2 linked regions of the Homo sapiens genome follow. The protein of the gene in region 1 purifies or fractionates together with the protein of each later gene. This does not show direct contact. Each region holds a gene or a part of one and is shown in the gene's direction. Other genes may lie near its edges. The genes, in order: CHN1 and CRAT.

Region 1 (3,818 bases):
ATCACTGAGTTGAGAAAGAGAAAAGGATAAATAGGGTTTTTTGCACAGCTCCTTACAGGTAGCCAGGCCTCTTCTTGGATGAATTAGGCATCGTCCATTGGAAAGAACTAGGAAGTTAACTCTAGACTTCCTAGTTCCTAGTCAATCAAACCATTCCCAGTGCAGCCATCTTCCCTTCATGCCCTGTGCCCCCCATACTTCTCAGATTTCAAAAGGCAATTGAGTACTAAATGACTGACACCATTGCTTGGATTGTTTTTAAGTTCTGTATCCACTGTAGAAATGCCCACTGTAAAATCGTAAGTCCCAGCAGGAGTAAAATGGTCTGAGCCCTCATTGAAATGTGTCTGATACAACCGAAATATAAAGGGACTCAATGCTATGTGTGTTTATTATTGTAGGAGTCTTATAAAAGCTATGGAGTTGCTTTCCATGTTGCAGATAATGTATATTAGAAAAAAAGGAAATGATGAAAGCAGTATATTAAACTGAAAAACTTTTATATTTAACTTTGGTGTAGAAATTTCACCTGTCTAATTTTTTAGGCTTTATAATGAAAATATACTTGGGAGAAATGTGTCTTTAACATTAGAGGAAAATGGAGAACAAGAAAGTGTAATTATATGGATAGTTCACTTAAGTGTAAATCAAAATTTGATTGTTACTAAAGGATGGATAAATTATGCTTTAGAAGGGCCAACATGGATAGTACGTTGGATTCTAGATTAAATTGTTATTAAAGTCTAATTTGAACTACAGAAACAGACATCGTCTGGCTATTATTTTAAAAAATATTTTATTTCCTTTCCATACTTTATTTCCACATTAAGATGTTCCTAACTCCTATTCATTTGGAATATAACCTATACCAGAACAATTTTGTTATATAACAAGTTTATAGTCCCATTTAACGCTTTACTTAAACAGCGTTTATTTTAGTATTTTAGTTCATCCCTGTTCTGTTGTACTTTTAACAATGAAATTAAATATATCCTTTGTGACTTGTTTAGTTTTTAATTAGTCTCACTCGGGGTTACCTTCAGGAGACCATTACACTGGCAGCTCTTGTTGCCTTGTTGCCTTTTGACATCTGCTTTCATTAAAGTCAGTGCATTTTCTTGCCTGTGTCTTCCTGCAAGGACACTGATGTTAATCATGCCAAATTGGATCCATTTCTGAGGTCTGCTGCAGGAAGCAAAATACTGAAATTATCATAAAAGTAAACCATTATTCTTCAGTTGTTAGAGCACATCATCAGAACATAAAATTGAAAACAGAATTTCTATAGTCCAATAGCTTATGACTTTTGTGCCGTATGTATTTCAAACATTTCTTGCACAGACCTAACCAGCAGACAGAATAATGACTCTTTAAAAACGAAAGAATAAGTCCTTGGCCTGTGGCCAGAAGTAGCGAAAGTGTGTTTCTGTGCCATCCTGCCCTGCATGGCTCAGGTTTCTGGAGTCAGCTCTACTTTAAGTGATTGCTGGCATCATATTCTGGTTAGCCCTAAATGGAGCTTTCCTATTAAAATACATGACTGCTGAGGTCTAAAGTACATTGAATATTCTTATTGATCAACTTGAAGAAAAAATGTTAGTATAGAAATGTCATCTATTATGGAGTTGGCCAATTGAATATTGACTATGTTTTAATGTGGTGTGAGGTTTATTTTCTCCCATTTTTTCCACAGGTATAATAAAGTGGTTTAAAAAGATAAATAAAAAAAATTATTTCTATGGTAGGCATGCTTTTGACTAGTTGTCCCTAATTATTGCAAGCTCATTCTTTGTGTTCAAAGGTTTAATTTTATATATTCCAGACGATTCAGAGAGATTAGCCACAGCTTATTTAAACAAAGAAGACACACACAAAACAAAGCGATAGTTTTTTTTTGTTTTTGTTTTTTTTTCAGAAAGAATTCAGTTGCTTACTTTTCTTAAAAACATCTTTCCCATTTCATTGAGGCAGATTTGGAAGTCAAACCAGAAACTTCAGGCTCTACTACGATGGCAAGCACTTTGTTGGGGAGAAACGCTTTGAGTCCATCCACGATCTGGTGACTGATGGCTTGATTACTCTCTATATTGAAACCAAGGCAGCAGAATACATTGCCAAGATGACGATAAACCCAATTTATGAGCACGTAGGATACACAACCTTAAACAGAGAGCCAGCATACAAAAAACATATGCCAGTCCTGAAAGAGACACATGATGAGAGAGATTCTACAGGCCAGGATGGGGTGTCAGAGAAAAGGGTAAGCTACTATGAAACCACACTTTATCTTTTTCTGTTTGGGGTTCTTTTAAGAAAGCCATTATTGCCAGAAGAGATTGATTTATCCACAGTGCTTTGGAAAGTATATTCATTTTTCTTAATGTCTAGTTTCTGTGATGCTGAGCTTTGCATATAACTAATTCTTGTTCTATTAAAATATGTTAGGTAAATTTTTATATTCCTGGTTGTTTTCTGTTTTATCAGTTTCACAATTTTAAAACTATGTTGGAAAAATGGCCCCTAATAAAAAATAGTTCAGGGGATTGGTCAGAAGCATAACTCCTGGTCAAGAAAAGATAGCTACTATTACGTAAGTAATTGAGGGGGTTGCATTATCTCTCAAAATTACTTTTTTGTTTTCCTTAAAGATAATTTACTTTATAAATAGTTGTGTTCTTAGCAAGATTTTATGTGTGTGTGTATATTATGTGTGTGTGTATGTATACACACACATTTTGGGAGTCAGTCATTCTTGAATAGGAGGAGGATTTATCTCTTTATAATCTGTTAAGAAGTAATTGAATGAGTAAGATTCACTTTTACTTTTCCTTAATTATAAAAGACAATTAATTCTAAAAGACAATTTAAGTTTTTTAGCTGTCATATTTTAGTTGTGATATATTTCAGGTTAACATAAAAGTTTTAATTTCTTGGCATTAAGATTATTTTACTTTTGAAAATTGCCACCAGCCTCCTCCTCACCCCCAAGAAAAAAGTAAGAGATTTTCCTGATGTTTTATAGTGTGTGACATTTAGTTGGGGGCATTTTAGGTATTGTAATTGGAACTGTGTCAATTCATTTTTATGTTTTTAAGAATCTTCAATTGCTAAACCAAAGAAATGCAATAGGTCTTGAGCTCGGATTCTATGCAAGATTTGTGTGCAAGTTGTAATACCTAATTTGTCTGTGCTTTTGATTGTCTTATTTGTAAAATTGTAATAATGGTCAAATTGCTGTGAGGAGTGAGTGAGATAGCAAGCGTAAAATGCTCCATCAGCACTTGGCACATGTAGACACTCAATGTAGTTTGGTGGTAATGTTATTATATAGCAGCCATCTGACCTCAAGGCAGCATCCTCAAATAACTTCCCATTACCTTAGAGTATTTGGGTACAGAATGGAAATAAGAAAGTTTGTGTCCAGCTCAAATTTTAGTTTTTGGCAGATCTTACATTGGCATTTTGTTGCTACGGAGAAAACAACATTTAAAAGGATAAGCTGTAGAAAATGTATAAAAATTGTTTTTTTATATATTCATATTGTTAGGAACCACAAATCTTGTTTGGAAGTAGCCAGAACTTAAAATCCTTAATACCTGCTGTATTTAATATTCTTTTCATGGTCTAGTTCCCATTTTCTGACTATTGGTTGATTTTCCATTTATGGCATTTTTTAGTAATGCTTGTATTTGAATAATACTGACATTATATTCTTTGCAGATTTGCTAGAACATTCTAAGTCAGCATTTGTGAAATGTTTAAAAATGTGTACATGTGAGTCTTTCAAAATTGATCAGCCTAGTGAAAACCTTTGTTAA
Region 2 (3,818 bases), on another chromosome or scaffold:
GGCAGGGAGGGTGGGTTCTGGATCTAGGCATTTACTTTGAGAATCTCCATAGCCAGGTAGAGGGCATGGGGGCCAGCCAGGTCCCCTAGCCCTGGGGAACAGGGGGCACCAGGGCCCATGCACCCCTCCTGACAGGCTCTGGCACTTTTCCCAGCTGTCTGAGTGGTGGCTCAAGACCGCCTACCTCCAGTACCGCCAGCCTGTGGTCATCTACTCGAGCCCAGGCGTGATGCTACCCAAGCAGGACTTCGTGGACCTGCAGGGTCAGCTCCGGTGAGTGGCTGGGGTTTGGGGGCCAGGAGGCAGCCGGGCCCCTCGAGTTCACTTCGCCCAGCCGCTTGGAGGGGCCCCGACCCTGTTTATCTTTCTGCCCCACAAGCAGCCTTATGAAGTAGGGAGCATCCTCCCTATTTTACAAATGGGGAAATTGAGGCTCGGAGCAGGGAAGGGAGCTGCCCAAGACCCCATTCAGGAAGCAGGGTCTCTCCAGCTCTAAAGCCTCATGGCTGTTAACCACCACATCTTCGCAGAGGCCCCATCCTCCTCCATACCTGAGGCTTCTCCCCGACCCCAGTTTTAGCACTTCACCTCTCCTTTCCACTCTTCTCAGCTAGCCACAGGGGTGACCTCTGTACACAGTCCTCTTTTCCACATTCAGCCAGGTCACCTGCCCCAGCCCCTATTCCAGTCCTACCAGAGATAAAAATACCAGTGACAAGGATCTCCTGCCCAAGGACCAGCCACTGGCTGCCACCACCTGCTTCTCTTAAAGGGACCAGGGTACCCTGGGAAGGGCCGGGGTTCAGGCCCAGGAACTCCAGCCACTGGTCCCCATGGTGGGATCCAGGGGCGGCCCCAAGCATTGAGGGTGGTTGCCATGGGCCAGACAGCCCTGGGAGGAAGGCGGCCTGGGGGACACAGAGGCCCAGAGTGGGGAAGGGACCTAGTGGAGGGAACACCGGAGCCACTGCTCTCCCATCACACCACCCCAGGGGCCCGGGGCCTCCAGAACCGATGCTTCAGAGCAGATGACACCCCCTCCAGATTCTAGGCTGAGGTTCAGGAGCTCAGGCCCTTTGTGGGTAGACCCAGCCCACTGACCCCTAACCAAGCCACACTCCAGCTGCAGGGGGCCAGCACCCAAGTCCTACTAGGCCCTTGGCCACCAGCACTTCCCCGAGCCCTCCCGACCATGCTCCCTCTAGAGGTTATGAAGAAGCACACACAGGCTGGCAAGCTGGGACTCGCAGGCCCCTCCCTTGCGCTCCCAGGCTTTCTGGAAGCGGTGAGAGAGGCTGGAAGACTAGACCTCCCGCTCCCCAAGCAGGTGTCCCTAGCCCGGGGCCTCCCTCAGGGTGTCCACGCAGCTTCTAATCTCTAATCAATCTTTCCAGATTTGCTGCCAAACTCATTGAGGGTGTGTTGGATTTCAAGGTCATGATTGACAAGTGAGCATCCCCACCCCTGCCCAGCCCCACACCTGCCCAGGCCTGCTTAATTACCACAGCCACCTCTGACCCCAGCCCTGGCCCGGCATGCCAGCTTGGGCCCTGGGCCCTGCTCCAGCTGCTGGAATCTCCTCTTGGTGGGTGACCCTGTCCCATCCCAACTAAAGAGGACCCCAGAGTTTTATTCGCTGCTTCATCTCCCCTGTGACAAACTGAAGCCCAGAGAGGGGAAAGGAGGGAGTTTCTAGATGACTTCTGAACAGGGCCCATCTGGGGCAGAAAGCGAGCCCCCTGCCCACAGCACAGCCCTGAGGTGTCCTGCTCATCTGGGAGTGGGAGCAGGGACACTGTGTGAGCCCCCAGCAGTACCTAGCAGGTCCCTGTCTACCCTGCCCTCCTCCCCATTCACTTGCCCAGTGGTGGCCTCACTGCCCCTCTACCCCATAGCGAGACCCTGCCCGTGGAGTACCTGGGGGGGAAGCCACTGTGCATGAACCAGTACTATCAGATCTTGTCCTCCTGCCGAGTGCCGGGCCCCAAGCAGGACACAGTCAGCAACTTCAGCAAGACCAAGAAGCCTCCCACGCACATCACCGTGGTACACAACTACCAGGTGGGTGGCCCCCACCCACACCTACAAGCCCCGGCCCTGCTGCAGGAGTACAGCCGGACGGCCGCAGTCGGCTTCCCCACTGGGGTTCCCCAGCACACGTGCCCACGTGCCCCAGGAATGGGCGCCCCTGGCTTCTCCATTGGGGGCCCAGGGAGGCCAGGAGGGGCCGTGGGCCTGCCCAGCCCAGAAGGGTGATCCAAGGACCTCCTCCCCCTCTCACCCTTGGCCTGACTCCATCCCCTCCAAGGCCAAGGCCAGGAGGAGGCAGGTGTGGGGAGGTGGCTGCTCTCAGCCTGAGGTCCCCACTCAGCTCCCTCCTCTTACCTGCCTGTGCCCCAACAGTTTTTTGAGCTGGATGTGTACCACAGTGACGGGACACCCCTCACTGCGGATCAGATCTTTGTGCAGCTGGAGAAGATCTGGAACTCATCCCTACAGACCAACAAGGAGCCTGTGGGCATCCTCACCTCCAACCACCGCAACTCCTGGGCCAAGGCATACAACACCCTCATCAAAGGTGCCTCTTGGGGGCCGTGCTGGGGCTGCACACCCAGGCCTCTTCCCCTGTTGGGGACCAGCCTCAACTCCACCTGTAGGGTACCCGAAGTCTGCTGGCAACAAAGGAATGAGAAGAGACAGGTTAAGAGTTCATGAAGGTGGGAGCCAGGGGCCAGTTGCAAAATGGAGGCTGCAAAAGGCGCAGAGTTCTGGTCTCCACACTATTGAGTGCAGTCACTTAGCTCTAAGAAGCACATGTTCAGGGCGAAACAGTGAAAGGGAGGCAGTGCCTCATAGGAGGCATAATCTATAGCAATAGCAGTTTAAATGAATCTCCTTTGTGCTCAAACAGCGTGTCTTTAACTTATCGGAGAGTAGCTGGTGGGAGCGGGCTTAACTAGGAGCCTGCACATCTGTCCACTTCCCAGTGTTTCAAAGGAGTGTCTTTCTCCTTGAACACAGTGTTTACAGATAGGAGAGCGGGTCTCGCTCTGAGCATGGGAACATGATGGCAATTAGTAGGCTTTCCTCCTCCGTGGCCTCTTCTGGCTTTCCACAACTTATTGTCCCCTATTTTTATGGCCAGTTTATACAGGCACCCCACAAGTCCTTTTCCCAACATTCCCCCGGCATGCTGGGCCCCGCACAGCCATGGGCAGACATGTTTCCCGCTGCATCCTCTCAACGTGGAGCAGGCAATGTGGGCCCCATGTCCTAGTTGAGGACACCTCATGGTTAGGGTAGTTTCTCTCAGCTAAATAGCAAGTTAGGATTAGAGTCCAAGTCCTCTGGCTGAGAAGCCCACCCGCCTCCACACCCCCTGTGCCCCCAAGTACCAGCAGTCCTCCAAAGCATGTCTTGCTCAGGGGCATTGACCCCAAAGTCAGACCACCTGTGTGGGTTCCCCGGCTGCCACACCAGCTCCCATGTGACCCCTGGGCTTCGGTTTCCTGTGTCTAAAGTGGGCCAGGTGTTGGGCCCTGCCTCGAGGAGTGCTGTGGGCCTGCAGGGTCCTGTTGAGTTCGAAGCTCTGAACCCACACCCTGCACTTGGTGAATGCCCTGGAGGGCCGGCGAGGTGGGGGGTCTCCTCATCCCAGAGAGGTACAAATGGGTCAGAAGAGCCCAGGGCAGGAGGCTGCGGAGGGGCTGGTCCATCTCTCCCACACCATGAGACCCCATTTTGCGTCTCCCCGCCCCATGCCACCTGCAGACAAGGTGAACCGGGATTCCGTGCGCTCCATCCAGAAGAGCATCTTC

The links.
Region 2: the proteins of CHN1 (region 1) and CRAT fractionate together in Homo sapiens (co-fractionation; one large-scale study listed by BioGRID). This does not show direct contact.

Annotation. Positions count from the first base shown.
Region 1 is NC_000002.12:174,876,282-174,880,099, reverse strand, and holds part of CHN1 (N-chimaerin), read left to right. Parts: intron 1-1,971; coding exon 1,972-2,260; intron 2,261-3,818. UniProt on the Homo sapiens protein: GTPase-activating protein for p21-rac and a phorbol ester receptor. Involved in the assembly of neuronal locomotor circuits as a direct effector of EPHA4 in axon guidance.
Region 2 is NC_000009.12:129,100,643-129,104,460, reverse strand, and holds part of CRAT (carnitine O-acetyltransferase), read left to right. Parts: intron 1-154; coding exon 155-273; intron 274-1,394; coding exon 1,395-1,448; intron 1,449-1,895; coding exon 1,896-2,061; intron 2,062-2,403; coding exon 2,404-2,578; intron 2,579-3,771; coding exon 3,772-3,818. UniProt on the Homo sapiens protein: Catalyzes the reversible transfer of acyl groups from carnitine to coenzyme A (CoA) and regulates the acyl-CoA/CoA ratio. Also plays a crucial role in the transport of fatty acids for beta-oxidation.